Linked DNA regions of Homo sapiens. The protein of the gene in region 3 interacts with the protein of the main gene of each other region in a biochemical or structural test. Each region holds a gene or a part of one and is shown on either strand. Other genes may lie near its edges. The genes, in order: MAP4K3, DPPA4 and SH3GL1.

The links.
Region 1: the proteins of SH3GL1 (region 3) and MAP4K3 form a complex in vitro, tested with the Homo sapiens proteins (one study listed by BioGRID).
Region 2: the proteins of SH3GL1 (region 3) and DPPA4 form a complex in vitro, tested with the Homo sapiens proteins (one study listed by BioGRID).

What each region holds. Positions count from the first base shown.
Region 1 is NC_000002.12:39,427,134-39,434,794, forward strand, and holds part of MAP4K3 (mitogen-activated protein kinase kinase kinase kinase 3), read right to left. Parts: intron 1-7,661. UniProt on the Homo sapiens protein: Serine/threonine kinase that plays a role in the response to environmental stress. Appears to act upstream of the JUN N-terminal pathway.
Region 2 is NC_000003.12:109,327,547-109,335,207, forward strand, and holds part of DPPA4 (developmental pluripotency-associated protein 4), read right to left. Parts: intron 6,448-7,661; coding exon 6,324-6,447; intron 4,486-6,323; coding exon 4,325-4,485; intron 4,239-4,324; coding exon 4,188-4,238; intron 3,267-4,187; coding exon 2,978-3,266; intron 1,543-2,977; coding exon 1,344-1,542; intron 479-1,343; coding exon 442-478; 3' UTR 1-441. UniProt on the Homo sapiens protein: May be involved in the maintenance of active epigenetic status of target genes. May inhibit differentiation of embryonic cells into a primitive ectoderm lineage.
Region 3 is NC_000019.10:4,362,380-4,370,040, forward strand, and holds part of SH3GL1 (endophilin-A2), read right to left. Parts: intron 4,616-7,661; coding exon 4,547-4,615; intron 4,195-4,546; coding exon 4,122-4,194; intron 3,247-4,121; coding exon 3,103-3,246; intron 1,843-3,102; coding exon 1,709-1,842; intron 1,500-1,708; coding exon 1,341-1,499; intron 1,095-1,340; coding exon 991-1,094; intron 358-990; coding exon 233-357; intron 7-232; coding exon 1-6. UniProt on the Homo sapiens protein: Implicated in endocytosis. May recruit other proteins to membranes with high curvature.

The DNA.
Region 1 (7,661 bases), on a different chromosome or scaffold from region 3:
CACAGCACAACAGGTAACCAGAAGACAACAAAAGATCTTCAAAGTGCTGAGAAAAAAACAACCGTTAATTTAGAGTTCTATACCCCACTAAACTATGATTTAAAAGTAAAGACAAAATAAAGACAATGAGGAGGGGGAGGAGGAAGACTGAGTTTACCTTATACAGTTCCTCACTTAAAAAGAAAAGTTAAAAGAAAGAAAAAAAATCCTACCAAATACAGCTTCAAGATTAAAGAAATCTGAACCCAGAATGAAGGAATATAAGGCCAAGAAGAAACAGTGAGCAAAGAAATTGAAAACTCCTACACGTAAATGTAAAGAAGCACTGTCTGTATAAAACAATAATAAAAACTAAACTGGGACATTTAAGAACAGTAGAACCAAAGTAAGAGACAACACAAAACAGTAAGGTAGTGAATGAAATTAAGCCTTCTAAAATCCACATACTGACCAGAAAGAGAACAGAGAAAGATCAGTTAACTTCAGACTAATTACACAAGTTGCAAATTTAACGGTAACCACCAAAAGCATAAAAGTAAAATCTTTTAACTTCTAAATCAATAGAGATGAAAGGGAAGAAATAAAACTTATTGAATACCATCTAAATAGCTACCCAAGCACGTTAGAGAAAAGAGTGGCCCTAATGAATTTGAAAAATACTACATTGTAGGTCAAGTGAGTTCTAAATTCTTCAACTGGCATTCATTTATCTGTATCTTATATATGTGAAACATTATCTACCACATTTCCCAATATGTCTCCTTAGAATAGTTGTCTTATTACTTCTTTGCCCACTTAGGTTCTACAGCAGTATTTTTAACCCATATTTACTCTTTTGGTATGACTTCACAGTTCTCCACAATCGCAAATACAATTTTTCTTCAAGTCCCAGGTCAAGATTCACTCTTTCAGGAAGTCAACTTATTTTTCCCTTAAATTAAAATTCCTACAGTATTTATATAGTTTTATTGTTTTCTTCTAATTGTTAAAATAGTGCCTTAGGCATGTTCCTTAGATGTTCCATACATGCAGATTTTGTTTCCTTATATCAGGGTTTAAGTTCCTCAGGGTAAGAATTTTCTTTAGGATCTCCTAAACAACCTAGCAGTGTTATTTTTCACTTAAGGATGAAGTAAACTTTAAGTGTATTTTCCTTTAATAAGCTCAAAAGCTGTGAGTTTTGCAAAATACACAGAAACACACACATCTCATATATAAAAGTAAACCAAGTTTTATAAGGTATTTGTTATAATCTTTGGGGCCGGCACAGTGGCTCACGCCTGTAATCCCAGCACTTTGGGAGGCTGAGGCAGGTGATCACCTGAGGTCAGGAGTTCGAGACCAGCCTGGCCAACATGGCGAAACTCCATCTCTACTAAAATAATACAAAAAATTAGCTGGGCGTGGTGACGGGTGCCTGTAATCCCAGCTACTCGGGAGGCTGAGGCAGGAGAAGTGCTTGAACCCGGAAGGCAGAGGTTGCAGTGAGCTGAGATCATGCCATCGCACTCCAACCTGGGCAACAAGAGAAAGAGCAAAACTCTGCCTCAAAAAAAAAATCTTTGGATACATAGAAAAAATGGATATCTTTTTAAATAGTCATTTTGCCTGTTTCCCTTTCATTTTTGTCAATTTTTATTAAAAGGAGTCCATGGGCCGGGTGCAGTGGCTCACACCTGTAATCCCAGCACCTTGGGAGGCTGAGGCGGGTGGATCACGAGGTCAAGAGTTCGAGACCAGCCTGGCCAACATGGTGAAATCCCGTCTCTACTAAGAATACAAAAATTAGCCCAGCATGGTGGCACATGCCTATAATCCCAGCTACTCGGGAGGCTGAGGCAGAATTGCTTGAACCCAGGAGGCGGAGGTTGCAGCGACCCGAAATAGCGCCACTGCACTCCAGCCTGGGCGACAGAGCGAGACTCCGTCTCAAAAAAAAAAAAAAAAAAAAAAAAAGGAGTCCATATGCTCAGGGTTAAAAATGAACAAGACTAAGCCAAAGGAAGTCAGAAACTACTAGTACAATGAGAATTTTAATGAAAACTGAAAATATGGCTCACATTATAATTACTACGCAATCCTGGAGAAGTTTTCCACAATTATGTTTCACTGCAATATTAGTAGGAAAAGCCAGGGATAACATTAATTAATTAAAATAAAGCAACATATTGATGAGATAAAGATCATCTAAATAAATGTAAAGGTATATCATATTCATAGATCAGAAGACTCAATGTTTTTAAGATCTCAATTCTCCACTAACTGAGTGACAGATCCCACACAATCCCAGCAGGCTGTGTATATAAAATATCACAAAATTATATACAAAGATATAAAAAATGAATGCATACAAAAACTGGTGAAATCTGACTAAAGCTTAGTTAACTGTATTGTGCCAACTAATTTCCTCGTTTTGATAATGCACTATAGGTATGTAAAGATATCACCACTGGGGGAAGGTGGGTGTTGGGTACATGAGACCTCTTTTCCTCTTTTTGCAATGAATTTAGAATTATGTATCTCAAAATTTAAAGTTAAGACAAAATTCCAGTAGGCTTTTATATTTAACTTGAAAAGCTGATTCAAAAATTTGTATGGAAAAGCAAAGGACCTAGAATAGATAAAACCATTTTGAAAAGGTAGAACAGAATTGGAGGACCCACTCTGCCTAATTTCAAGACTTTTGATAAAGCTACAGTAAACAAGACACTGAGGTATTGGTGAAAGTATAGACATACAGCTCAAAAGAACAAGAGTCCAGATATACTCACATGTGTACTGTCAACTGATTTTCATCAAAAGTGCTGAGGCAATTCACTCATGATTCATTTATACAAAGTTCTAAAAGAGCTTTCATGGTGACCGAAAGGAGAACAATAATTGTGGGTGGGTGGTATTTATGACTGGCTGGGAAGGGGCATGTATTAATCTGTTCTCATGCTGCTAATAAAGACATACACAAGACTGGGTAATTTATAAAGGAAAGAGGTTTAATTGACTCACAGTTCCACATGGCTGGGGAGGCCTTACTATCATGGTGTATGTAGGTTAGCATACAGGCGATGAAGAGGAGATTCTTTGAGCAAGGTAAGGTAGATGATCCTTTATACAGAAAGAATTTTTACAATCTCAAATTTCTAAGAGCTTAAACAAACAAAATAAGTGTCTTATTTCAACATATGTAAATTTATGGTCAAATCTAAAATTATTCTATAGAGTTTAAGGGCTAAGGTAGGCAGTACATTATTACATTAGGAAACCAAACCTATAATCAGGTCAAGGCAGTTAGAACTCAGAAATGTGGCATCTTCCAGAACAAAAAAAGACTAAAAAAAACCTAAAGCAGAAAAGAAATATGATTTTTGTACATATAAAGGTGGTATGAAAAAATAAATAAAAATTAAAAAAGAAACATGATTTCATCTCTTGAATCGAAGGTTTTTTTTGTATTGGTGAACAAAGTCCTCTTCCTAAAAGCCCAATTTAATCGTATTTTAAAAAAAACAAAATAAAAGTCATATGTGATAGCCTACTGCTGTATTCACTAGTCAGTCACTAGGGGTATTTAGTTCAAAATGACGGAGTATCTTCATATGCATATAACAATTATGAACATTGCTTAATATGCCAAAGATACATTAACCCTACTGATTAGATTTAAGACCTAATAATAACCCATTACATTTAACTCATTCTGTACCCACTATTGCCAGAACTCTAAGTCAAGCCCAATGCCACCTCCTCTGCAAGGCCTGCTGTGATTTCTCCCAGTCAGAAATAATGATCTCCTTCCTCTAAACTCATGTAGCCATGGTTTGTTCCTCTCGTGTTGGTTCATTTATTCATTCCATAAATATTTATTAAGAACCTAATATGGGTCAGCTACTCTTCTAGGCTCTGGGGATACAGCAATGAACAAAGCAAAATCACCAGTTTCCTGGATTTATACTCTAGTGGGAAGAGACAGGCTATAAACAAATAAACATGTGGTGATACATGCCATAATTAAAAATTAAGTAAAGAGTCCAACTGAATTTTTTGTGAAGCTAACAAAACTTAAAGTTCAGGCCCCTTCACTTGCATGGTCCTCTATGAGTGCTGAGAGTTGCTGGGACATGTAGAGTATTCCAGGTGGAGACAGGGAGCCAGGGAGTCATCAGAAAGCATTTTTTTGTGAGCATTTGTGATTAAATGCCTAAGGAAGTCTCAGAAGAAAGGGACCTAAGGTTACAGTATTTTGTTGGGATATCTTTTCTCATTCTAAAGATTCACTTTCATACCTTTTTTAATTCTAGTTTTGTTTTCTTAATGAGGGTCCCCAAAACTGCATCAACTTCAGGTCCCGTAAAACCTGGATCCATCCCTGAACTGTATCCCTGAAAGTGGTGGGAGAAGTGCTGTTTTTTGTAGGGTGGAAAGGAGCAGGCTCATTAAAAGATGACATTTGAGCTGAGACTTTAAACGAAGAAGCAAGCCAAACAGATATTGGTGGGGAGGGGTGGATTTTAGGCAGAGACAGCAAGCTAAAAACCCTGAGGCAAAGCATGAGGAATGCAGTTGGTTAGAAGGACAGTAGGAGGAGAAATACATAATAATAAATACTTCTAGACACTAACAGCAATTAACAATGACCACACTTTTTTGTGTCAGGTACTGTCCCAAGCACTTTTCTAAGCATCTCCATTTTACAGCTGAGGAAACTGAGACACACAGAGAGGGATTAAGTAATTGGCCTAAGGACAAAGCTAGTGGGTGGTGAAACTAGGCAGCCTGGCTCCAGAACCCTGTTCTCAAATCACTATGCTGTGCTACAGAGGTCGGTTGTGCAATTATGGAGTATCTAGAGAGTCTCTCAGCCAGCAAGAGATTTAATATGATATAAATGAGGAAACCAAAAGGTTCTGATCTCAAACTATGACAGCTAATAGCAGGTACACATTTTATGTTCCTGTAAATACCAAGTACCAAGCCTTGTCATTTCTGCTACTCTACTCACAGTTCATAACACATTTCCTCTCATATTACAGCTGTTCAATGTATGATGGCTGTTCAATGTACTCTCATGAGAGAACTTACTATTCATTCTTAATACAAAATGATGCATTAGATACGTTTCACCAATAAATACATATACAGATCAAAGGCTGGAGGTAAGTACTTCCTTTAGGTAATCAGATCTGCATCAAAGTCAGAAAACCTGTTTGTTTTTCAAACACTCTAGAAAAATTACCTCGCTACCTGTTTCATTGTCACTTTTCATCTCAAATAGCAACTGATGATGGGAAATTCTACCTTATTCAACTTCAAATGATCTTTCTGAAGTTTAGGGCCATTTCTTCTGGTCTCTCTAGAGTCTATTAGAGTCTATCCTAAATGGAAGTAAATAGAAGTGAGCATAACTCCAAATAACAATGTTTGAGCTTCCTTCAAATGTTCTTTTCTAAATGCTTAAGGTCTTCATATTCCTTATCCGTTAGGTTTAAGAATTGAGTTTTCCAGAAAGGTTCTCACAAATGCTGATTATAATGGAAGAATTAGTCTATGATGATATTAAATAGAACACCTTGAAAGATGCATAATTACAAATAAACTAACACGTAATTATCTAAATGCATATAAATTGGTTTCCTTATTTTACTGCCCAATCCTCACCTTTTTTCCTGCCAGCTTTCACAGACACTTTAAATCTATTTACACAGACTACGATGTGAATCCTACCTGGAAGCTTAACAACACGGCAGCCCGTGCTTCAGAGGGAATGGCTTCCAAACACACAAAGGTGAAAAAAAATCAATATCAACGTTTCCAAAGCATGTTCTACAAAACACTAGTACTAAGGACAAGCAATATGTATTACAGAGAAAAAGAATCTAATAGTCAAGTAAGTTTGGAGTTTGCTAGGTTAAGCAAAGTTTACCAGGTTTCTTTACCATAGGACTTCTCAGTCTTTAACCTACTCATGGTATGGCTTTTCCTGAAGCACCCCAACCACACTTTGGAAAATGCCTGTGTACAGAATTTAGCTAATGCCTAAGAAGCCCAGTCCAGAAGTCACTAAAGATGACTCTAAGGCTTACAGCCTGGAGTCTTTGTGTATCCAGTCTTGGATACACAGGCTAGGAATCATTCACAGGGACCAGACTAAAACCATAAGACTAGGTAAGATACTTCCTCAGAAACCATATTGAGACTATTCTTTCAAAACTTCTTTTGCCTTATCCCATCTCCAGCTTTACTATCTCCTGCTTCTTTCTAGCAAAAAATCTAGAAAAACATAAGGACATCAAGACTTAAAGGGTAGGAATAATAAAAATTAAACTGGAAAACTGCCTGACAAAAGATGGCACAATGCATGTGAAAATCATATTATGATCTATTATAACTACCTAATTTCTCCAAGAAAACTTTTTTGAATGGCAAACCTATGGATCATTTTTTCATTTTTTTGGATCATGAAGCTCTTTAAGAATGCAATGAATGCTATAACCCATCTCCACAGAAAAACACAAATACATACAACATTAAGCCTATTAATTTCAGAGCACTCCATGGGCCTCCTGAGGCCCAACTAAAGAGCTTCAGTTGCCAGCTCCTAGGTCCCTAGGTAACCCAAGCTGCAGGCACTTCATGACAGATAAAGCCTGCAGAGTTACACGACACTTACAAGATACGACTTTAGACAGTGCAGATAAAATGTATATATGCATTGGCCTGAAAAAAATAAAGATAACTTACTTACTAAGTAAAATTTGAGTCATTTAGTCAATACCAAAAGAAGAAGGGCATATGATGGTAATAATATCTCCACAACAAAACAGCTCTGAGAGGTTGATTTCACAAGGTCACATAGCTAATAAATCCCAGATTGTCCACATCCTTGTTCAGTGCTTTGGAACTAAACCACGCCACCTTAAGTACAATAAATATGTTATTACATTGAGTAGGAAAACATTTTCAAAATAAAAATCTCCACCAACCTTCCAAGAATGACTATAATCGGATCTCTTATTTATTTAATCCAATCATTCCATTTTTAGCACGTAAATGCTGACAAATTAAGGAACAAATTATATATATTGGCTTTTGAAAACAAAATGTACTTCTCTCTAGCACAATTAATTTGTATAAATAAGAAAAAACTAAAACAGCAAAACAAATAACAAAAAAATGTAACTTTATAGAATAAACTTGATTATAGACAAAAACATAAACAAGAGTTTGGCAGGCAGGGGTACATGATGTCAAGAACCACATGAAGTTTCTCTGCTTTGGTCACTGGTATTGGAAGAGTCTGGCAGGCAGGGACCAAGCATCTATTATCTGATATCCACTTGGCAGACTACATAAACAGTGAGACCTTGTGGCACAGCAGGAATTAGGTATTCCAACTACTACTTAAAGATCTACACTGACTCAGAGTGTGGCTACAACTCAAATGCTAAACTAAATGTGTGCCTCAGTTTCTCCACTGGAAATGTAATACATTATCTGCCCATCTCCTATCTTTAGAGAGGCAGCACTGCCAATTGGTTAAGAATACAGTCCCTAATTGGTTCAAATTTTGGCTTTGCCACCTACCAACTTTGGCAAGTTAATCTCCTTGTGCCTCAGTTTATTCAACTGCAAAATGGAGTTAACAATAGCACCTATCTCACAGGGTT
Region 2 (7,661 bases), on a different chromosome or scaffold from region 3:
CTGTACCTAGCTACTCAGGAGGCTGAGGCAGGAGAATCATTTGAACCCAGGAGGCGGAGATTGCACTGAACTGAGATTGCACCACTGCACTCCAGCCTGGGCAACAGTGAGACACTGTCTCAAAATACAACAAAAAAAAGCTGCTGCTGAAGTCATGTCTATTTTAGAAAAGTAGTATGAATGAGTTTTTCTACATATTAACTACAATTTATGGTAATTTGTGAAATGTTTTTCCATTTTTAAATGTAAGAGTCTCTATCTCCACTCACAAAGCAACAGGCACTGCTAGGGGTCTTAGGCTAACATCTGCCACCCCACCAGTCTGCATGGCCCATAAACAGGTGCAGAGGACCAGAGTTCACCTGTCAGCAGCACCGCAGAATCCAACTCTCCAGCTTTTCTGCCATTAATTACCATAGATGTGGCCTTTTTCCTGATATTCTATTCCCATTGGAGGCTTTTTATTAAGACCTTGTTCCTATAAAGCAAATAAAGTATTTGTTTTTAAAAAGAATGAAGAAATATTAAAAATAGCCAAGAAACCCGCTGCTGGAATGCTGTTGAAATTGCCCTTACAACTTTAGGATCATAGGTAGCAAGCCTGTGATCCTGTCATTCAAGAATGAAGATCATCAGCCAAGTTATCATGCCTCTGTAATATATTCCCTGACTTGTGCCAACCATGGACAGGAGGCCTTGGAGGGGCTCTTTTCATCACTTTCCCAAAAACCTAAGTATGTCATTAAAGGACTACCCAAAGTGACCTCCTCAGTTCTCTTCAACTTGCTTGGCATAGAGAGATTATCAAAACACTCACAGCAAAAAGTAGGATATCCCAAAGAAGGAAAAGCCAATCACACATTCACATACTTCCTCCTGTGGGAGATGGTCTTGCTACGTTTCCCAGGCTGAGAAATTACCGATCTCTCCTTTCCATCTAGTCGATTCTTCCCTTAACTTAAGGAACCTCTTCTTTGATATTCATCATGTTATTCTAGGTGTTTACATGCCCACCATCCCTGTTAAGACTGTAGGCTACTTAAAGGAAGAGGTTTTTTGCTAGTCATTATTTCTGTGTAGAGCATACACTTTGAATATAGTAATTATATAATGTTTGTTGCTCCCAGAATTCTGTGTCTCCAGGTAGAAGCATTAAACCCTGACACATAAATGCTTTCTTTTTCCTGGGGATAAACTTAACTGAGTAATAATTTTCTTGAAACTCTTTACTGACAATTTGAGCTTGAAATACCTGGCTATTTAAGATTAATGTATATCTTAACTTTCTGCAATTGAAAATCCGGCACCCACTTTTAGTTTGTAGAAAAGCATCAGGTAATTACCTGTGAACACATTTGGGGCACAACATATTGTCTTCAAGGTGCGGGGGTGGAAAATTGGAGGCAGGAAGCAAGAAGAGTGCACTCACTCTCCCTTCTTGCTTTTCTGGAACCCAGGCTTGACCAGCATGAAACTGCAGGTGAACCCAACCATCTGTGTCTGCAGGGAGACTTTTCCCATGGACCACACACCACCTGACACCTGGCAATGGCAAAGGAAAGAGACAGGTACCCGCACACCAGGATGACATACTGATGTAAGACTGCATTATGGCCCATCACCCTTGATTGACCAGCTCCAAGATGTGAACCCTGAAATCCTAACTTAACCTCTTCTCTATTCTGTTCTCCTTTAGAAAAGCATACAAGCTGGGCGCAGTGGCTCACGCTTGTAATCCCAGCACTTTGGGAGGCCGAGGCGGGTGGATCACGAGGTCAGGAGATCGAGACCATCCTGGCTAACACAGTGAAACCCCGTTTCTACTAAAAATACAAAAAATTAGCCAGGCGTGGTGGCGGGGGCCTGTAGTCCCAGCTACTCAGGAGGCTGAGGCAGGAGAATGGCGTGAACCCGGGAGGCGGTGCTTGCAGTGAGCCAAGATTGCACCACTGCACTCCAGCCTGGGTGACAGAGCGAGACTCCATATCAAAAGCAAAACAAAACAAAAAGCATACAAGACAGTTCCTGTTAAAACTTAAAAATCTAGTTGGAAGTAGTATAGTTGTAGGTGGGCAGATGGTAGAAAGACTAACCCAGAGTGTCTGGAAAGGGCTTCATGAAATAAGCTCAGGGGTCTCAGCTCTTAACACACATTGGATTATGCTAAGCAGTTTGTCTTCTTTTGTTGTACTTTCTGTAATTCTTCCAACATATAAGGTAGGTATTACCCATTTTACAATGAAAACGCTGGGAAATATTTTAAATAACTTATTAATGCCATTCTGGGGCTCAGTTGCAGGCAATTAATTTTAGACCTTGCCTTTAATTTAAATTGCTTAAAGGGTAAAGAAAGAAAACCAGACTGCTATCCCCTTCTGATGCCATCAATAATTTAGAGCAGTGGTTCTCAAACTGTGGTCCCCAGACCAGCATCCTTAGTACTGCCTGGGAAACTGTTAGAGATGCAAACTCTTGCCAGGTACGGTGGCTCACGCCTGTAATCCCAGCACTTTGGGAGGCCAAGGTGGGAGGATCATCTGAGGTCGGGAGTTCGAGACCAGCCTGACCAACATGGAGAAACCCCATCTCTACTAAAAAGACAACATTAGCCGGGCATGGTGGCACATGCCTGTAATCCCAGCTACTCAGGAAGGCTGAGGCAGGAGAATTGCTTGAACCTGGGAGGTGGAGGTTGCGGTGAGCTGAGATCGCGCCACTGCACTCTAGCCTGGGCAACAAGGGAGAAACTGTCTCAAAAAAAAAAAAAAAAAAAAAAAAAAAAAAAGGAAAAAAAAAAAAGAAATGCAAATAAATGCTCAGGTCCTGCCCTAGACCTGCACCAGAAACTCTGTGGGCAGGGTCCAGGAATCACCGGCCCTCAAAGGGATTTTGATATACCCTAAAATGTACCAGTGATTAATATCTACTAAGCTTATTTCCCCATTGGACCAGAATAAGCTCTTCATGTTGCGCTTACCAGAGGCCTCTTGTGGAGATTCCACTGCCTCTGGTGTCCTCGCCCTGGCTGAAATTCTCGCCCAGGAGGCCAGCAAAGCCTCTGGGGCAGAAGTTGTCACCACAACTGTATTAACTCCCTCAAGGAGAGCAGTGGAATTTTCCAGGGCAGGCGGCTCCCCCACAGGAGGAAGAGCCACTTCAGGAGGATGTGTCTCAGAACTTTGCAGGGACGTTTCCCCCTTTTCCACCTTTAATTTTTTTTGCAATGATTTCCGGATTTTGGCCTCTTTTGCTGTGCTAGGAAAATCCTACAAAAAGGGTTAAATAATAAAGATAAAAATACAGATTAAAATTCTAACAAAAATGGCCTAAGGAGCTCTTGATCAAATACAAAGTTTCACTTAGGAGGACTAGGTTCAAGAGATCTATTGTACAAGTTGGTAACTATACATAGTTAATAACAATGTACTGTCTTCTTGAAAATTGCTCAGTTGGCCACCCAGTGGCTCAGGTCTGTAATCCCAGCACTTTGGGAGGCCAAGGTGGGTGAAACACTTGAGGTCAGGAGTTCGAGACCAGCCTGGCCAACATGGTGAAATCCCGTCTCTACTAAAAATACAAAAATTATCCAGGCATGGTGGCTCATGCTTGTAATCTCAGCTACTCCAGGGGCTGAGACAGGGGCATCACTTGAACCAGGGAGGCAGAGGTTGCAGCCTGAACTGCAGCCTAAGTGACAGAGGGAGACTCTGTCTCAAAAAAAAAAAAAAAAAAAAAAAAGAAAGAAAAGAAAAGAAAAGAAATGAAAAGAAAAAAATAGAAAAAAAGAAAATTGCTGGCCAGGCACAGTGGTTCACGCCTGTAATCCCAGCACTTTGGGAGGCCGAAGTGGGTGGATCACCTGAGGCAGGCGCCTGTAATCCGAGCTACTCTGGAGGCTGAGGCAGGAGAATTGCTTGAACCCGGGAAGTGAAGGTTGCAGTGAGCCGAGATGGTGCCACTGCACTCCAGCCTGGGTGACAGTGCAAGACTCTGTCTCAAAAAAAAAAAAAAAAAAAAAAAAGAAAGAAAGAAAGAAAAAAAAGAGAAGTAGAGATGGGAAATATTGTTCTTTCTTAGAACTAGGGGTGGAGGAACAAGGTGAGGCTAAGACAGTTCCTTTACTCACTTTTGAGGCTACAATAGGTAATTAGGATAAGCATTGAAACGTCCATCCTTTAAAAAGTTACCTTTTGATTTGGGTAGGCAAAGGCACACAGGCGCTTATATGCATCCAATTTCTAAGACAATAGAAAACTGAGTTAGTAAGGCAAATAAGGTTCCTACCCTTCCTCCCAGCAGCACCGTCCCCAGCCTGGGACCTCACCTGGCCTTTGGAGCTCAGCTTCAATTGTTGGCACCAGGCCCGCAGAATGTCCCGGTGAATCAGATTAACAGGTGGCAGTTTAGAAGGTAATGGAGGGATTGGTATCTTCTTCTGAGGTCTGGGGTTGTCAGTGTGCTCTGCCTTTTTCTTAGGGCAGAGCACTGAAGCAGAATGGAATCAAATGAGTAGTAATTATCTTTGTGTAGCTTTTCTGAATTTCAAAAGTAAAATCACTTTTTTTTTCTTTTTTGAGACAGAATCTTGCTCTGTCGCCCGGCTGGAGTGCAGTGGCGCGATCTTGGCTCCCTGCAACCTCCGCCTCGTGGGTTCAAGTGATTCTCCTGCCTCAGCCTCCTGAGTAGCTGGGATTACAGACGCCCACCACCACGCCCGGCTAATTTTTTGTATTTTTAGTGGAGATGGGGTTTCACCATGTTGGCCAAGCTGGTCTCGAACTCCTGACCTTGTGATCTGCCCACCTAGGCCTCCCAAAGTTCTGAGATTACAGGCCTAAGCCACCGCGCCCAGCCTAAAATCACTTTTAGTTAATAGTCCAATCCCTCTCAAACCTAGGATTTACCACTTCTAAAACCCAGTTTTATTCCTAAATTGCCCCACTACTGAGGTACACTTGCTCCTTTGTGAGCTCCTTAATCCACAGAATCCAGGTGGTGGCATCGGAGGTTGCACTTCCATCCCAGGGGAATTACCGCTGTCTTAGACTTGAGATCATACTCAGTGGTGTCCTCTACCCCCAGAGCAAAATCAACACCTGACAATGCTACACAGGCAACCACTAATACCCTTAATTCTGCCAGCCCACCCTAGGTCAGGGAAGCACTCTGGTTTCATAGCAGGTATGTTTCCTTAGCTCTGCTGTGTTTCTGTTCATCCCGCTTCTGCACCTCACATACCTTGTCTTCATTCAGTAAAGATTTCTGGCTGGGCGCAGTGGCTCACACTGTAATCCCAGCACTTTGGGAGGCCGAGGTGGGTGGATAACCTGAGGTCAGGAGTTGGAGATCAGCATGGTCAACATGGTGAAACGCCGTCTCTACTTAAAAAATTAGCTGGGCGTGGTGGCACATGCCTGTAATCCCAGCTACTTGGGAGGCTGAGGCAGGAGAACTGTTTGAACCCGGGAGGCAGAGGTTGTAGTGGGCCGGGATCGTGCCATAAAAATTTCTAAGGCTGGGCATGGTGCCTCACACCTGTAACCCCAGCACTTTAGGAGGCCAAGGCAGACGATCACTTGAGGCCAAGAGTTTGCAATCAGCCTGGCCAATATGGTGAAACCCTGTCTCTACTAAAAATACAAAAATCAGCCAGGCATGGTGGCACACGCCTGCAATCCTAGCTAACTTGGGAGGCTGAGACAGGAGAATTGCTTGAACTCGGGAGGCACAGGTTGCAGGGAGCTGAGATGGTGCCACCACACTCCAGCCTGGATGACAGAGCAACACCCTGTCTTGGTGTCTCAAAAAAAAAAAAAAAAAAAAAAAAAAAAAACCAGCCTGTAATGACACTAATAGTAGGGTTTACTCTGTACATATTACTTCTCAGGCATAGTCTAAGTGCTTCACTTAACTACTCTATGTAAATTTTAACACTCCATTCCCACCGCTTAATAAAGGTAGATATTGTCCTAACTTATTTTTAGAATAGGAAGTCCGGTTTCAAGAATGGATCTTCAAATTTACAGCTGTCTGTTCCCAAATCATTGCACACTGAAATCCTTAACTCCAAGTAGCAAGTGAAGGAAAAAATGATCAGCAGAACCAAATATGCTGTGGAAGTCTGAAGATAGGAAGGGATCAGTTAGAGCAGTGGTGACCAAAAGATGCTTCAGGAAGGTAACAGTTTAAGCTTGGCTTCCATGAAGTGCAGGATTTGCACAATACATGATGGAAATTTCTTCCCTGGTTTTTCTTCTTCAGAAAAATTCCTCTGGCTTCTAAGACCCGAGAAGGTGGGATTTGAGAATTTGAAGACCTCTTACCTTTACTGCCTTTGATAGACATTTTTTCTTTGGTTCTCTTTGCTGATGTTCCTGGCAAAGCAATTGAATTTGGTTGATTAGAAGCCTGCTGATCCTCTTCCCTCGACTTCTCTGTGGAGGTCCACTGGGGAACAGAGGAGCTGGTCAGTCATTCCTCTAGTGTCCAAACCACACATACACTACCTGCCTCAAGATAACTCACTTCTAAGGCACCAACGCAGTTACTGGACTCCACTGGCAGTGTGGATTCTCCTCTGGGTATCATCTTAATACTCAGTTTCATTTACAAGACTGGGAAACAATGATGGAAAAAAAGGGAGGAAGCCAGTTTGAAAGCACATGAAAAGACAGATACAAACAAGAGTAGAAGAAAACAGCTCTGCCTTGAGGGGAAAAAGCGCTTAGGTAGGCTCACGCCTGTAGTCTGAGTGCTATAGGAGGCCTAGGCAAGAGGATTGCTTGAGTCCAGTAACTGGATACCAGCCTGAGCAACAACATAGTGAAACCTTGCCTCTACATAAGGAAACAAAATTAGCTGAGCATGGTGGTGTGTGCGTGTAGTCCAGCTACTCGAGACTGAGATAGGAGGATTGCTTGAGCCAGGGAGGTAGGTAGAGGCTGCACCACTGCACTCCAGCCTGGGTGACAGAATGAGACTGTCTCAAAAAAAAAAAAGAGGCCCTTAACTCACTTACTATATTCCATCATCTCTCACCTGGCAGAATTTTTTCCCCCAGTCCTTCATTCTTGACGCCTTCCAAATAATTTTCTAACACTGTTGGCAGAGTGACACTATGAAAAGTTTCAGTGGTTTATTGCTCTTAACATAAAAGTAATTGTCTTTAACATTACCTACCAGCCTCTTATCTCCTATTTCACACTGCTCTCCCTGACCAAGCTCCAGCCACATAATTCCTTTCCTTTCCAAAGTTGTTACATTCCTCAGCCCCAACCTCCACCCTACTTCTATTTACACTTTAAAATCTTACACCTTAAAAATCTTACTCTTCTTTTAAAAGTCTCACCTCAAGTGCTATTTAACCTGGTCCTTCCAGACCAATCTACTAAATACTACCTCATTTCTACCACTTGTTAATTGCAATTACATTGGTTTGTGTGATTTCTTTTTCATCATAGGCACTCAATAAATATTGGTTCATTGAATTAAAGGAAGCAAAGTGGGAGTGGGGAAAAGTTGTTTAATCCAGAGACAGTAACATATATTGAGCCTCTGTCTCATACTAGGCATTGGCTTTGATATGCTCCTCACTTTCATTTTTTTAAAAAATATTTATTTATTAAAGAAAAGGTCTTGCCCTGTCACACAGGCTGGAGTGC
Region 3 (7,661 bases):
ATGAAGCTAAACACAAGCAAAACGAGGAGGCTGTGGGCTCAAAACGGTCGGGCAGGGCCCCTTCTGCAGAAGGCTGGGGCCAGCCCTTCCCGTCTGCCTTGGCGGTCCAGATGGAGCACGGCTGAGAGCTGCACCCAGGAGTCTGGCGCTCAGAGACCCAGGACAGGGCCAGCCCTTGGCCACTCCCACCCGCTGGCATTTGCCTCCGCAAGAGGGCTCCATGCCCCATTACCTGCGATCTTGGGGGCTGTGGTGCAGGGGAAGCCCCCGTTGGACTGCTCAGGCTCTCCAAGGTCAAAGGGCTCCCGGGGCTTGGGCTTATACTCCCGCTTAGGGCGTGAGGAAGCTTCCCGCATCCTGTGAAGGGAGAGGCGTGAGTGGACCGAGCCCGTGTCACGGCCGAGGCAGCCCCACTCTTGTATTTATGCTGCTGCCTAATGACCTGGCCTGGGACTGCAGGAAGAGGCCGTCAGTGGGGTTGTGACACATGGACCCTGGGACACAGCTAGACTGGGATGTCTACCCAGAGGGCCTCCAGCCTGGACCCCCACCTTGGAGGCATCCCAGAGATTGCCAAGCAGCTGGGGCCTGCCACAGCATCTACCTACAACACCCCCAGTCGCATCCCCTGCCTCCTCCCCCAATTCCCCACCACGGACGGCGCCCCACATACGCCAAGGCCCCTGAAGCAGGTCTGGCCTCTGCATTCAGGGAGGGGAGCCTGGGTGTTCCTGTGGCAGCAGCAACGTGCAGCCAGGGAGGGAGTCCCCGGGGCCTGCATCGGGGCAGGGCTGGGTGTTGACTCAGAGTTCTCAGAGCCCCAGCTCCTCTGACCTCGCGGCCCCCCAGGCCTTTCCACTCAGTCCCCAGGAAGAATCCAGGATGCTGCTCTGCCATGTGCTCACCCCACAGCGAGGTGTGCTGCCCACTTGCGCTGGCAGAGGGCGCATGGCAGCCCAGACTCTGGAGAGACCAAGGCCCTGGGCTCACCTGCGCTTGAGCTTCTCCGCCAGCTCGTCCAGGATCTGCACGGCCTGCCGGTGGTAGTCCAGCTGTGCATCCACCAGGGCCGAGAGCTGACTCACCTGCTCGATCTGTGGGGACAGTAGGGCTCAGGGGCTCCTGCCAGTGCCACTGTCCTGTGCCTTCCCTGACTCCCGAGGTGAAGCCACAGGAGGCAAGGGGGCTGAGAGGGGACAGGGGACTGGGGCCCATACCCTCCACCTCCCCTGCTGCAGCGGCCAGGTAGGTGCCGATCTGTCCTCCAGCTCCCTTGAGGCACCACCCCGGCCTCCCAAGGGCATAGGTCTTCTCAGGATGTGACACCCCGAGCTACTCACGTCAGTCTCCAGGAGGTTGTGCATGCTGGTTTCTGCCACCTCCTTGGACTCCTCGAACTTCTCCAGCGCCTGGCGTAGCTCCTCATCGGGGATCTTGCCCTGCCGCTTCTTCTTGTAGTCAAAGTCCAGGCGGCGGCCCTCCAGTTTCTTCAGGTGGTGCTGGAGACGTGGGGGACATGGGTCACACCAGTAGCGGCCAGAGGGCCGCCCCACGCATGGCTTTGACCCACTGTCCCTGCACCACTGGGGATCCTGCCTGCCTGAGACCCAGAGGGCAGTGCCGAGGCTGGAGGTGAGGGTGGCAGGAATGGGGCTGCCCCATCCGGCAGGGGGAAGGGACAGGCCCCAGGCTGGCGCAGGAGCAGCACCTGGATCTCCTTCAGGTCTTTCTCGCACAGGTTCTGGAGGGGGTCAATGAAGTTCTGCTTGACCTCGATGTCCAGGGAGTCCTTCACCTCTGCCAGGCGCTTCATGGACTCGCCGGCATCCAGCAATGCGTCACCTGTGGAGAAGTGGTGGGGGAAGCCATCATACCGGGCCTGGGACCACTAGACTGAGACACTCCTCAGCCTTTGTTTTTGAAATAGCGTTTCACAGGCTGGAACGCAGTGGCGCTGTACCAGCTCACTGCAGGCCTCAAACTGGGCTCAAGCCATGCTGGCACCTCAGCCTCCCAAGTAGCCGGGACCACAGGCGTTCACCCCCACACCTGGATCCTTTCCAACTTCTTTGAGATGAAGTCTCGCTGTTGCCCAGGCTGCAGTGCAGTGGCATGATCTCAGCTCACTGCAACCTCTGCCTCCCAGGTTCAAGCAATTCTCCTGTCTCAGCCTCCTGAGTAAGGGGGATTACAGGGGCCTGCCACCACATCCAGCTAATTTTTGTATTTTTAATAGAGACGGGGTTTCACCATATAGACCACACCGGTCTCGAACTCCTGACCTTGTGATCCGCCCGCCTCGGCCTCCCAAAGTGTTGGGATTACAGGCGTGAGCCACCGCACCCGGTTTTTGTTTTGTTTTGTTTTGTTTTGTTTTTTCATAGTCTCGGCTCACTGCAACCTCCACCTCCTGGGTTCAAGTGATTCTCCTGCCTCAGCCTCCCGAGTAGCTGGGGTTACAGGCATGCACTACCACACCCGGCTAATTGTGTGTGTGTGTGTGTGTGTGTGTGTGTGTGTATATATATATATATATATTTTTTTTTTTTTAGTAGAAGCGGGGTGGGGTTTCTCCATATTGGTCTTGCTGGTCTCGAATTCCCGATCTCAGGTGATCCACCTGCCTTGGCCTCCCAAAGTGTTGGGATTACAGGCATGAGCCACCACACTTGGCCCCATCCCAACTTCTAACAGCCCCCCAACACTCTAAGCCCAGGGCCCGGAAATTGGAACTCAGGGCAAAACAAAGGATCCTAAAATCCGAATCGATGCTGGACGTTAAACCAGACCCTCCAATGCTCCTAAAAGGGCCTAGGTTTGCCCTTAACAGGTGGAAGGACAGATGCTGGGGGGTCCAGGCCCTGGGGAAGCAGCTGGCTTGAGTTGGGGAAGGTCTGGAGCTACAGGAAGGGGCCCTATCAGCTGCTGGCCAGTGCTGGATGGGTTGGTCTGTGCAGTCTCCTGCACCTCTGCAGCTGGAAAGCTGTGGGGGCCACTGTACGTCCCCGGCACTCAGCACATGCAGGGCCTGGACCTGCCCTGCCTGTGTTGAGGTGTGGCCTCCAGGGACGGTGGGCGTGGCTTCCAGAGAGCACCACTCACCAAAGTTGGACTCGCCGCCCAGCTCCTTCCCGTGGCGGATCATGCACTCGCCCAGAAGCCCCTCCGACTGCGGGTAGCCGGGGTTCTTCACCTGGCCCCGGATCTTGGACACCGTGTTGAGCATGGTCAGCTTAGCCCGCGAGGCTGGGATAGGATGGCCAGGTGGGTGTGGGCTGTGAGGCCTGCACTCCTCTGCCCTGGCAGACTGCAGCCCCCACATCTCCTCCCCACCCTTGCTTCCTGTGCCTGTGGACAGCCTAGGCCACACAAAGCACAGTGGAATCCCCAGAGGGTCCCTTCCCTGCTCCTGCTAGCCTCAAAGGAGCTGGCAGCGGGTGGAGAGGTGACCAAGCTCCTCAGGGGGCAAAACCTCCTCCTTCCAAGGGCTGCTCCTCTTGGAACGTGGCTATGACCCCTCATCTGGGGGGTGCCAGGGAGGAGGCGCAGCAGTGATGTGCAGCGGGGGGTGGTTGAGGCCAAGGCTCCCGGGGTGGGTGATGAGCTGTGTCCCTTCCGCTGCCCGCTTGGGTCTGCTCCTGGCAGGGCCTGAGTGGACACTGCTGGGTGTGCGTCTGCCCCCTGTCCGTGGCCTCCTATGGAGCCAGCATTTGGGTTTTCCTTGGGGAAAAGCCCGTCTCTCAGCCAGGGAGACCCAGTCCCAAGCCCAAGAGGTGAAGTCCAGGCCAGGGGCACTGGGGAGGGGCGGCCAATACAAATGGATCCCACAAGTAAGCTGGGGGAGAGGCTCCCTGCCAGGACTGCTGGCTGGAAGAGGGGTTGAAGGCTGGGACGGCCCTGAGGAACCAGTCGGCATGAGAGTGAAGCCAACAGAGGGGCTGAGCTGCTGGTTGAGGTGGAAAGGCAGCATGCAGCACCAAGGATGGCCTCTGCACTCCGGGATCCAGCTGTGCCTGAAGCCCACAACCCATGAGCCTGGCGGTTCTGTCATCCCCTGCCTTCCCTCTGACACAGAGGCCAGAGGGCCTGGGGCAGGCCCTGGCAGTGGCTGGAGCACCCACCTGGGTTGGGCTGCAGGTACTCGATGGTCCTGGCCAGCACTTCTGTCACCGCCTTGCTGGTGACATCCACCTTCTGTGAAGAGAAGCAGCATATAAGACTCCACAGCCAGTGGGGGCCCAAGGCACACAAGACCCCCGCTGCTGCACCGCCTCCTGCCCTAAGAGCCCATACCAGGACCCCCCAACCCCCTCTCCATGTCTTCAGCTCAGCCATGTCCCCACAGCTGCCTGCCCACGGCAGGGGAGAGAGCTGGTGCCCGTCAAGTCCAGCTGACGAGGCCCCCACACCACCCCATCTCTCCACACCTGCCGGGCCCCATCACTCCAGACCCAGGCCCATCAAGGTTGGCCGCCTCCACTATGCCCGGCAGAGGTCAGGCCCCAGCAGTGCCACCACCACACAGAGCACGCAGTTTCTTCCTCACCTTCTCCATCTCTTTGAAGTCATCATCCAGCTTGGTCCCCTCGGCCCCTCCGACCTTCTCACTGACCAGCTAGAGGACAGAAGAGGGGAAACGCTGTGAGCCCAGGGGTAGGAGGAAGAAGAGGACAGGAGGCCCTGAGCCGCCTTCCAGCCACATCGCATCCACAGCTGGAGGCAGGAGGCCAAGTGATCAGGACACACACCTCAGGCACTGCCGTGGGCACCCCAGGGCCACACGCTGCCTGCAGAGCAGGGTGGGCCTGCAGGGGGAGGGGGAGGGTGGGGGTGGCCTGCCCACCTGTGTGTGTCCCGACTGCCACTCACATACCCACTGGGGACCCTGCCACAGTAGGCCCCATCTGGGCCACGGTGGAGTCCAGAGCCTCAGCCTGAGAACACATGGCTCAGAAGACACTGCTTCCAGAAGCGCCTACACAAACATCCCCACAGATAGCAATGTGGGGATCTGCCCCCATCCTTGAGTATGTGGGGTCTACTTAAAAAAAAAAATCCTGCCAGCTTGGCTGGGAGAGGCAGCAGGAGCTGACAGTTACGAGAAGAGGTGCAGGCAGCCGGGCAGGGAGGCCGCCATTCTCCTGTGCTCTGGTGCCCGTGTCTGCAGGATGGGACAGCCCAGCCCTTGCCCCATGTGGACACTGAGTTTCACAAGGCAGTCAACACAGGCCTGGCACACCTTGGTCCTCACGGCTCTCAGCTACGGTGAAAGCGATGACAATGACAGGCACTTACAGCGTCTTTCCTCGTGTGGTGGGAAGGCAGAAGCAAGCACTGAATTCCCAAACCACTCCCTCTGACAGCGCCTGGGATGCGAAAAACAGCCCTGAAATGTCCCATGGAACATGGCGGGAACCACTGAACCCCAGCACCGCTGTCTGAGCACAGGCGTTGCTTTCTTCACCCCACGTATCCCATGTGTGCCTGGCGCCAAGGGATGCCGCACAGAGTGAGGATGGACAGTGTGAGGCCCTTCCCAGCACACAGCGCTTCATGAAGAGCCGAGTGGCTGCCAGGCCCTGCCACAAATGGAGGCTCCCAGAGGGAGGCCGCCTGAGGTCACAAGCTTGGCCCTGCCCTCTGGGGGCCAAGTGTCACAGGGTGTGCCATCTCTGAAGTCATCGGCAAATTTAACATCCCGGGTCTGATCACTTGTGTGAAGACGTGCACACACGGCCTGGGCAGGAGAGTGAGGTGTTGCGTGCCGTGGGCCATGGCCTGTGCCCCTGGTGCTCCCCAGGTCTGATTGGTGCTTGCCTGCCCCGAGCTGTCACAAGACGTGGCCAAGGGATGCCATGAGGGTCCGTGTGGTGCCACACTGCGTTGGCTGTGTGGGGCTGGGGGGTGTCCAGCAGGGCAGTCAGGAGTTTAGGACCCAGCCTGGGAGGAAGTGACCCAAGAGCAGGAAGTGCGGGGGCAGGAGAAGCTTGAGCCTGGGGCTCTGCCCACGCCAGGCACCTGGTGTACCCTCTAGCCCATGCCTGGAGGTCACAGCCCAAGGCACCATGAGTGCAAATGCCCCCAACCCCAAGTTCTGCAAAAGGTAGCCTGCCCGGAGTACACGGCTGGTCTTGTGTCCTGGCAACCTGCCCAAAAAGACACCAGCCCCTTTGCCAAGGAATTCCTGGCCCTCCTCCAAGGCTTGGCTCTGGAAGCCCCCACACCACGGGACTGTCCTCACCCACGCATCGGGACCCTTTCTGTCCACCTGCCTTCATGTGCGGGGTGTGCCGGGCATTCAGTGAGCACAGGCCCCATGCCTCTGACCCCTGTCCCTTTCCTGCCTGTGGGTTGGTGGCTCTCAACTCAGCCACACAGCACCTTGGAAGCTTCTTAAAAATCCCCTCGTTGGCCGGGCGCGGTGACTCATGCCTGTAATCCCAGCACTTTGGGAGGCTGAGGCAGGCGGATCATGAGGTCAGGAGATCGAGACCATCCTGGCTAACACAGTGAAACCCCGTCTCTACTAAAAATACAAAAAAATTAGCCGGGCCTGATGGCGGGTGCCTGTAGTCCCAGCTACTCGGGAGGCTGAGGTAGGAGAATGGTGTGAACCCGGGAGGTGGAGCTTGCAGTCAGCAGAGATCCAGCCACTGCACTCCAGCCTAGGCGACAGAGCAAGACTCCATCTCAAAAGAAAGAAGAAAGAAAAAAAAAATCACCTCGTCACACCCACCGCGGGAGGGCTGACTCTGGCACAGGTGAGAAGCAGGAACTGTCCCTTGCGGGGCAGGAGAGTGGGGCTGCCCTCCATTTCTGCTGAAGGCATTAGGAGGAAGGAGCCCCCCCTCCCTAGGTGTTTTTGGGGCGTTCCACTCTATTTCCTGGGACAGTTTCACTTCTTTTGATTGTGGCGAGAGAGGGCGTGCTCAGAGCCAGCGGCTGCCGGAGAGGGAAATGAGTGGCTGATGTGAGACTGGACTCTTCTGGGAAGCCGGGAGGAGAACTGAAGCCAGCGGGCTGCGAAACCACACCTTCTGGGCGGAGGCCACCCCGGCCCCACGACCTGCCCAGGCAGGACCCAGTGTGCAGGCTGGCAGGAGTGGCTCCGTCAGGGCCCTTCCCCAGCCCCCTGCCTCTCACAGGGCAGGAGGAGAGGCCCTACCGGCGAGGACCACATCCTGCCTCTGAGGGGAGGGGCTGGGGACCCGCCACGGTACCAAAGACCCACCTGGTGGCCTCTGGCTCTGGCCCTGGCCCCACCTGCCCATCTCACCTGGGAATCCAGGACCCTGCCTTCCTGAGCCCCAGGACGACTTCCTGAACCCCCACAACCGCCTGACTCCTCGCACCCCTGACACCCGGGAGGCTGTGCCCTAACTACCCGGGTCCCTCTGCTCAGCTCCAGCCAAGTCCCTTGTGGTGACTGATGGTCCCCCACGGGCCAGGCACTGGGCAGGGGACACAACCCTGTAAGGCCCCTTCTCTCCAAGGCTTATGGGCTAGAAACCAGCACAGATGGACACAGGGATGAGCAGCCACAAGGGAAACACGGGAAAAGCAAGGCAGCCGGGCCACGTGCAGCGCCGGCCGCAAGCGCGGAAACCAAGCGTGGGCTCCTGCCCGCTGGGGCCCTACTCACTGCGGTCTCCACACCAGCA